2 separate regions of the Homo sapiens genome follow, and region 2 is linked to region 1. The links come from fine-mapping of genetic effects on gene expression. Tissue or cell type: aorta. Region 1 holds a variant in brackets; the other region holds the start of a gene. All regions are shown on one strand. Distances are between the middles of the regions.

Region 1 (2,752 bases):
AACTAAGCTGGCAAAGGCAAGAACAAGCTAAAAAGGGCAAGCCTCCGCCTTGCTGTGCCGAGATAAAGAAAGAATGAAGACCGAGCCGTGATGGGGTATATAAGGTCTCCTGGAGAAGCTCGGCCTATCCTGACGTCCCGCCGCCAACACCTACCTGGCGGGTGTAGCTCTGCAGCCGCTCCACCAGCTCCTCGCGATTACCTGCAGGGCAAAGTACACGATCAATGGGGCAGGCCAGCCCGGCCAGGTCAGGCCCCAGCGGCCTGCCTCCGCCCCTCGCACCCGAGTCTCCCGGGTAACCAGGCTCCGCTTCTCCGCAGGCCCGTAAAGGCCCCTCGACTTCCTGTGTTCCTCACCCTGGATCGGAGCTCCGATCTCTGCCAACTTGGCCTGAAGCTCCTGGGCAGCCCAGGCGCCATAGTGGCCTGGAGGTGGCGGCGGCGGCAGCTGCAATTCTGCTTTGGGAGGCTCGGGATGCTCCGTCGCCATCTTAGCCGCAGGAAGGCGCGCGACCAACCCGGAAGCTGGGGCCAGCCTCAGGGCCCACTTGCCGGAACTTCCGGTGGCGCCGTATGCCACGTCCTCTCTGGTTGGGAGGCGACGCGCACTCAGGCACACCCGCTGCCGTGCGCTGGGCGACGGGATTCGCCGCAGACGCACCTTTCTCTAGTGGCCCCTCGGCGGTCTGGTCGCGAGGCCTCCTGGGAGTTGTAGTGCGCAGGTCTCGGTCTCTGCGGGCCCTGCGCGCCGCTACGGCCCCGAAGGCCGGCGGCGGGCCGGAGGGCGGGGCTGCGAGGAGGGCTGGCACTTCCCCGAGGGAGTGTTTTCTGCGCCTCACCTGCGGGAGCGAAGGCTCTCAAGCTTTCCGGCCCGGCCCTCCGGTCAGATCCTCGAACGCTTACGCTCCCAGGGAGTCCCGAGAGACTCATTTCCCCGGCGGCCCCGCGTTGCGGGCGCCAAGCGGGAGGCTGGAGCCGATGCCTGGGATAAAACAGTGTCTGATTGTCTGCCCGCCCACCCCCGGCCCAGGCCCGGATGAATGGGCTGAAAGGGGATCCAAGCCGGGAGAGCAGCAGGCCTGCCCGGGCTGAGCTCCAGCTGCCGACCTGGGGGAAGGGCGACTCTAAAGCCCCCTTTTCCACCTTCCAGGCCGGCTCAAATGTCGTCTTCTCCACTAAGCCTCCTCCCGCTTTCCTTTCCTTTCTTAGAGCTCCCATAATACGTTCGAATCTCCACCGTTTGTTAAGTCTTTCTTGCCCTTTCTTCCTACCTCTATCCCAAAAATGTGAGCAGGGACTTGATCATTTTCAGTCTCGCATCGCCTGGCGTT[C/T]AAGAGGCGCCCAATAAATGATTACTGGAAAAAAAGGAACAATGTTTCTGGTGAAAGCATTTGTGTCTTTTTTAGTCTCAAAAATAAACTCAGGCCCTTTTCCCTCAGCCGCACCTGCACTGGGGGCCCCACCTTGCCTCCCACTCCCCACCCCAACTCCCCTTGGCCTTTGGAGACAGAGGCAGAGACTGGCAGGGATTCTTGCCTGCCTAGCATCCACCTCTCCCTGTCCCACACCATCAATTCAGTTTCTCTCCCCACCTCTGCCACTAGCTCTGCCCTCTCACCAACAGCTAGCCTGTGTGTGTTTTTTATGTGTGTTGAGAAAGGGAGTGGGGAGACTCAAGTGAAATGGTCTCATTTTCCCCCTACACATCCCCTTCAGATCTTTTCTCCAGCTCCATTTTGCCAACTGCCCCCAGTGGAGAAGAAGCTGGGAACAGGGAAAAAAAAAGAATGGGGCACCAGGTCGGGGGAAGGTGAGGTTTGGGAGAGACAGGGAAAAGGACTGGGTTGAGAAAGGTTGGCTCACATCCTAGCACTGGGTGGGAAGTCCTCTTCCTCCTACCCAAACCTTGACCTTTCCCCTTTCCATCAATATCACTATGGGAGGCTCCTGCAGCCACACTCCCAGAGGAGAAGCCAAACCCGGAAAGGACAGTAACGAAGACAGAAAAACAGCGCCCTTCCCTCCAGCTTGTCAGCCCACTCAGGCAGAACCTTTCTAGCCCAAAGGAAGGCTCTTCTGCTCCCTGTAACTGGAGAGCCCAGGGCAGGTCATCTGAGGCTGAGGGCCCCAAGGCATGTGTAGGTGCTAGGGAAGGGGGCGGGGTCTCTGAGGCAGGATAAACTAAAGGCTGATGGAGTCTCATTTTATTTATTTATTTTTTATTTATTTATTTATTTTTTTTTTTTTTTGAGACAGAGTCTCAGTTGCCCAGGCTGGAGTGCAGTGGCTCTATCTGCGCTCACTGCAAGCTCCGCCTCCTGGGTTCACGCCATTCTCCTGCCTCAGCCTCCCGAGTAGCTGCGACTACAGGCGCCCGCCACCACGCCCAGCTAATTTATTTGTATTTTTTTTAGTAGAGACGGGGTTTCACCGCGTTAGCCAGGATGGTCTCGATCTCCTGACCTCGTGATCCGCCCGCCTCAGCCTCCCAAAGTGCTGGGATTACAGGCGTGAGCCACTGCACCCGGCCTGGAGTCTCATTTTATAACAGCCCTGGGAAGGAGGCAAGGTCTCAAGATCCTCCTCCCCCACGATATTGTACACAGCGGAAGATTGATGGGCAGAGAAGGTGACATGCCCAAGAGGCCAAACTGGGGCCACCAGCAGTCCTTCTGACTCTGAGAGTCCCTATTTCCTCCTCCTCAACCATAACAAGGACCCTCACACTATTTCCTATGTGGGCCTAGAAGGGC
Region 2 (2,596 bases), 430 kb before region 1:
CTACAGGCGTGCATCACCATGCCCAGCTAATTTTTTGTATTTTTGATAGAGACGGGGTCTCGCTATTTTGTCCAGGCTGGTCTCGAACTCCTGGCCTCAAGCGATCTGCTTGCCTTGGCCTCCCAAAGTGCTGGGATTACAGGCGTGAGCCACCGCGCCTGGCCTTTGTTCAGAATTCTTTACACTTTCCACTGTGCTCACAAGGATAAAGTGCCAGGCCGCCAGCTGGAAGGCTCAGCCTTTAGCCAGGACTCGGCCCCAGACTCCTAAAAGTCAAGTCCATTGCTTCACTTTTCTGTACCTCCGTTTCCTCCTCTATAAAAGAGAGAATAACCCCAATATTACCAGGTGGGTGCGCTAATCAGATGAAGTCGCCCTGGACGGAAAGTATCCACAGCAATAAATGATTTTGCTTGAAACTGTCCCATTCTCATCCCTCTAAATGCCTTTTCCTTGGCCCTCCATTCTCCTGCTCGCTCCCTGTGCTCCACCAGGGAAGCCACAGAAGTTCACAACCAGAAGAAAGCCCATTTTACAGATAGGGAAACTGAGGCTTGGAAAGGGCAACAATTTACTGAAGGTCTGACAGCCCCGTTGGAACCCGGGGATTCCCCAACCCGGGGCATTCTCCCCGCCACGCCCCGTCCCGGCTGGGACAGAGTGTCCAGCCTCCTCGCCCTGCCCCGGCCTCCAGAAGCCCCGCCCCAATAGCACAGCCTCGAGGTTCGGAAAGGGCTGTTAACTCTTTGCTCCCCGGAGCACTCCTTGGCCTCGAGGGCGGGGTGAATTTGGAGGGGGTACTGGAGAGTGGGCAGAAAGGGAACGATTTTGCGCTCAGTATGGATTCGCCTTGGTCCCCCGGGATGACACGCTTTGACCCCAAAAGCCCAGGCGCCGCGCCTCACCTGCAGCAGCTGCTCCGTTCGCAAACTCACTTCCTGCTTCCGGCTCCCCCATTCATTGGGGCTCTGCGAACCCCGCCCCCCTTGGCCAACTGCCTGGCCTCGGGGTCCGGATGGGCGTCAGTACCAGCCAATAGACGCGCCAAGACGAGCTTCTCGGCTCGCCCGCTCCCGCCCCCAGGCGCTACGGGGTGGCGCGCGGATTGGCCCTGCGGGCTCGGCCTTTTGTCAGCAGGCCGCACACGCGCCGGACCGGGTACCGCTGTGCCCGGCCTGGCCGCGGCCTAGTCCCGGCAGACGGGACTGACGAGGTCACCAAGCCCAGGCCGAGACGGCGCGGGTGTCAGGGACTTGGGAATCCCCCTCCCCCAGTCCCGATCCCGCTTTCCTTTGGGGTTTCACCTCAGAGGACCCGACAGCACTCTTGCAGGTGGGAACCTACACAATAGGAGTAATGTGGCTCCACCTTCCTCTCGGGACTCGGGACCTGGGGGTGGAGACTTGGAAGTTGCAAAGCTCTCGGTGCCGGGAATCGGGGCTACGGTTGAGTGGGATCGGGCCAGGGCTGAGGTGGTCCCACCCGTGTAGGGGCGCGGAGAAACGCCTCGACTGCTTCACTGTACCACCACCCACCCGCCACGGGCCTGGAAGGAGCCGCTAAACATTCCCGAGCCTCAGTTTCCTTAGCACAAACAGGCTGGTAGTTTCCTGGTGCTTGCCAGATGCCTGATGGATGAGAAAGCCTCCTGCGGCCCCGAAAGGGAGTCCAGAGCAGAGGCGGGCCCGCGGTCCACTTTTACAGGTCTGGACGGACTCACGGGACCACGGTCTGGGTGGGGCATGCGGAAGGGCCTAGGCCAAATGGGGAGTAGTGGTGAGGGCCCAGGGTCAGACTGGGGGGTGGAGTGAGGTTGTCTGGGAGTCTTGGCTTTATGAACCGGAAAACCAGGCTAATAATTGAATCCAATCCAAGGGATATTGTAAGTTGTGATGTGTTGACTGCAGTGCCGCTCCCTATAGTTGCGCAGGGTGAGGGGCGTTTGGGTACTGAAATCCCGCACGGTCTCCTTGCTACGCCCGTGTCTAGGCCAGACAGCCTCTGCTTACCATAGACACCAGTTTCTCATCCACAAAGGTGCCCAAGGCCCTGCTTGACACAACAGTGTTACAAGCTGTTAGCTTTGATGATTACTTGTTATATGGGGGAGTTCAACAAGTTGGTCGGTGTCCTTAGGAAAGTCACCCCTCTTCTTTCCTGTGCCTCCGTTTTCATTGTCTTTAAAATGGGTATAAAGTTGGCTGACAGGTGAAGTTGAAATGTGCACAGGTAAGGGAGGTAGTGCTGCCCACTGCCAGCAGGGGGCAGCTCAGGCAAGGAAAAGACCCCAGTGCTCTCAGGACCCCCCAACCAGCTACGTGATCACATTTTTATGATCACAGATAAGATGAGCATATACTGAGGTCCCTTGCTAGCAGTTTGGCATGGAGGACCTCATTTAATTCTTGCAAAAATCCTGAGGTATGATCACTTTACCCATTGTACAGATAGGGAAACTGAGGCTAAGAGGTTCGCCGACTCCTATAACACCACACAGTTCAGATATCCCTGGCCCCAACATAGAGATACACACACACAGTCACTCACATGGAGCAGTCTATCACTGGAGTCATAACTCCCCAGCCTTGGCTCTTCC

Evidence for each region. PIP is the estimated chance that this variant, and not a neighbour inherited with it, causes the effect.
Region 2: DPP3-DT starts here. The variant in region 1 is fine-mapped to the expression of DPP3-DT in aorta (GTEx, PIP 0.98).

The regions. Positions count from the first base shown.
Region 1 is chr11:66,050,122-66,052,873 of GRCh38, reverse strand. SF3B2 (splicing factor 3b subunit 2) reads right to left here and starts at 510. Exons shown (of 22, transcript NM_006842.3): 1 at 357-510; 2 at 155-201. The coding sequence starts at 489. RefSeq lists enhancers at 303-472, 1,093-1,142, 961-1,512 and a silencer at 683-892. The variant C/T (reference allele first, on the strand shown) is at 1,331.
Region 2 is chr11:66,478,775-66,481,370 of GRCh38, reverse strand. It overlaps DPP3-DT (DPP3 divergent transcript), which reads left to right and starts at 1,122. Exons shown (of 4, transcript NR_120586.1): 1 at 1,122-1,332. It overlaps DPP3 (dipeptidyl peptidase 3), which reads right to left and starts at 937. Exons shown (of 18, transcript NM_130443.4): 1 at 906-937. RefSeq lists enhancers at 798-967, 1,544-2,111 and a silencer at 1,108-1,157.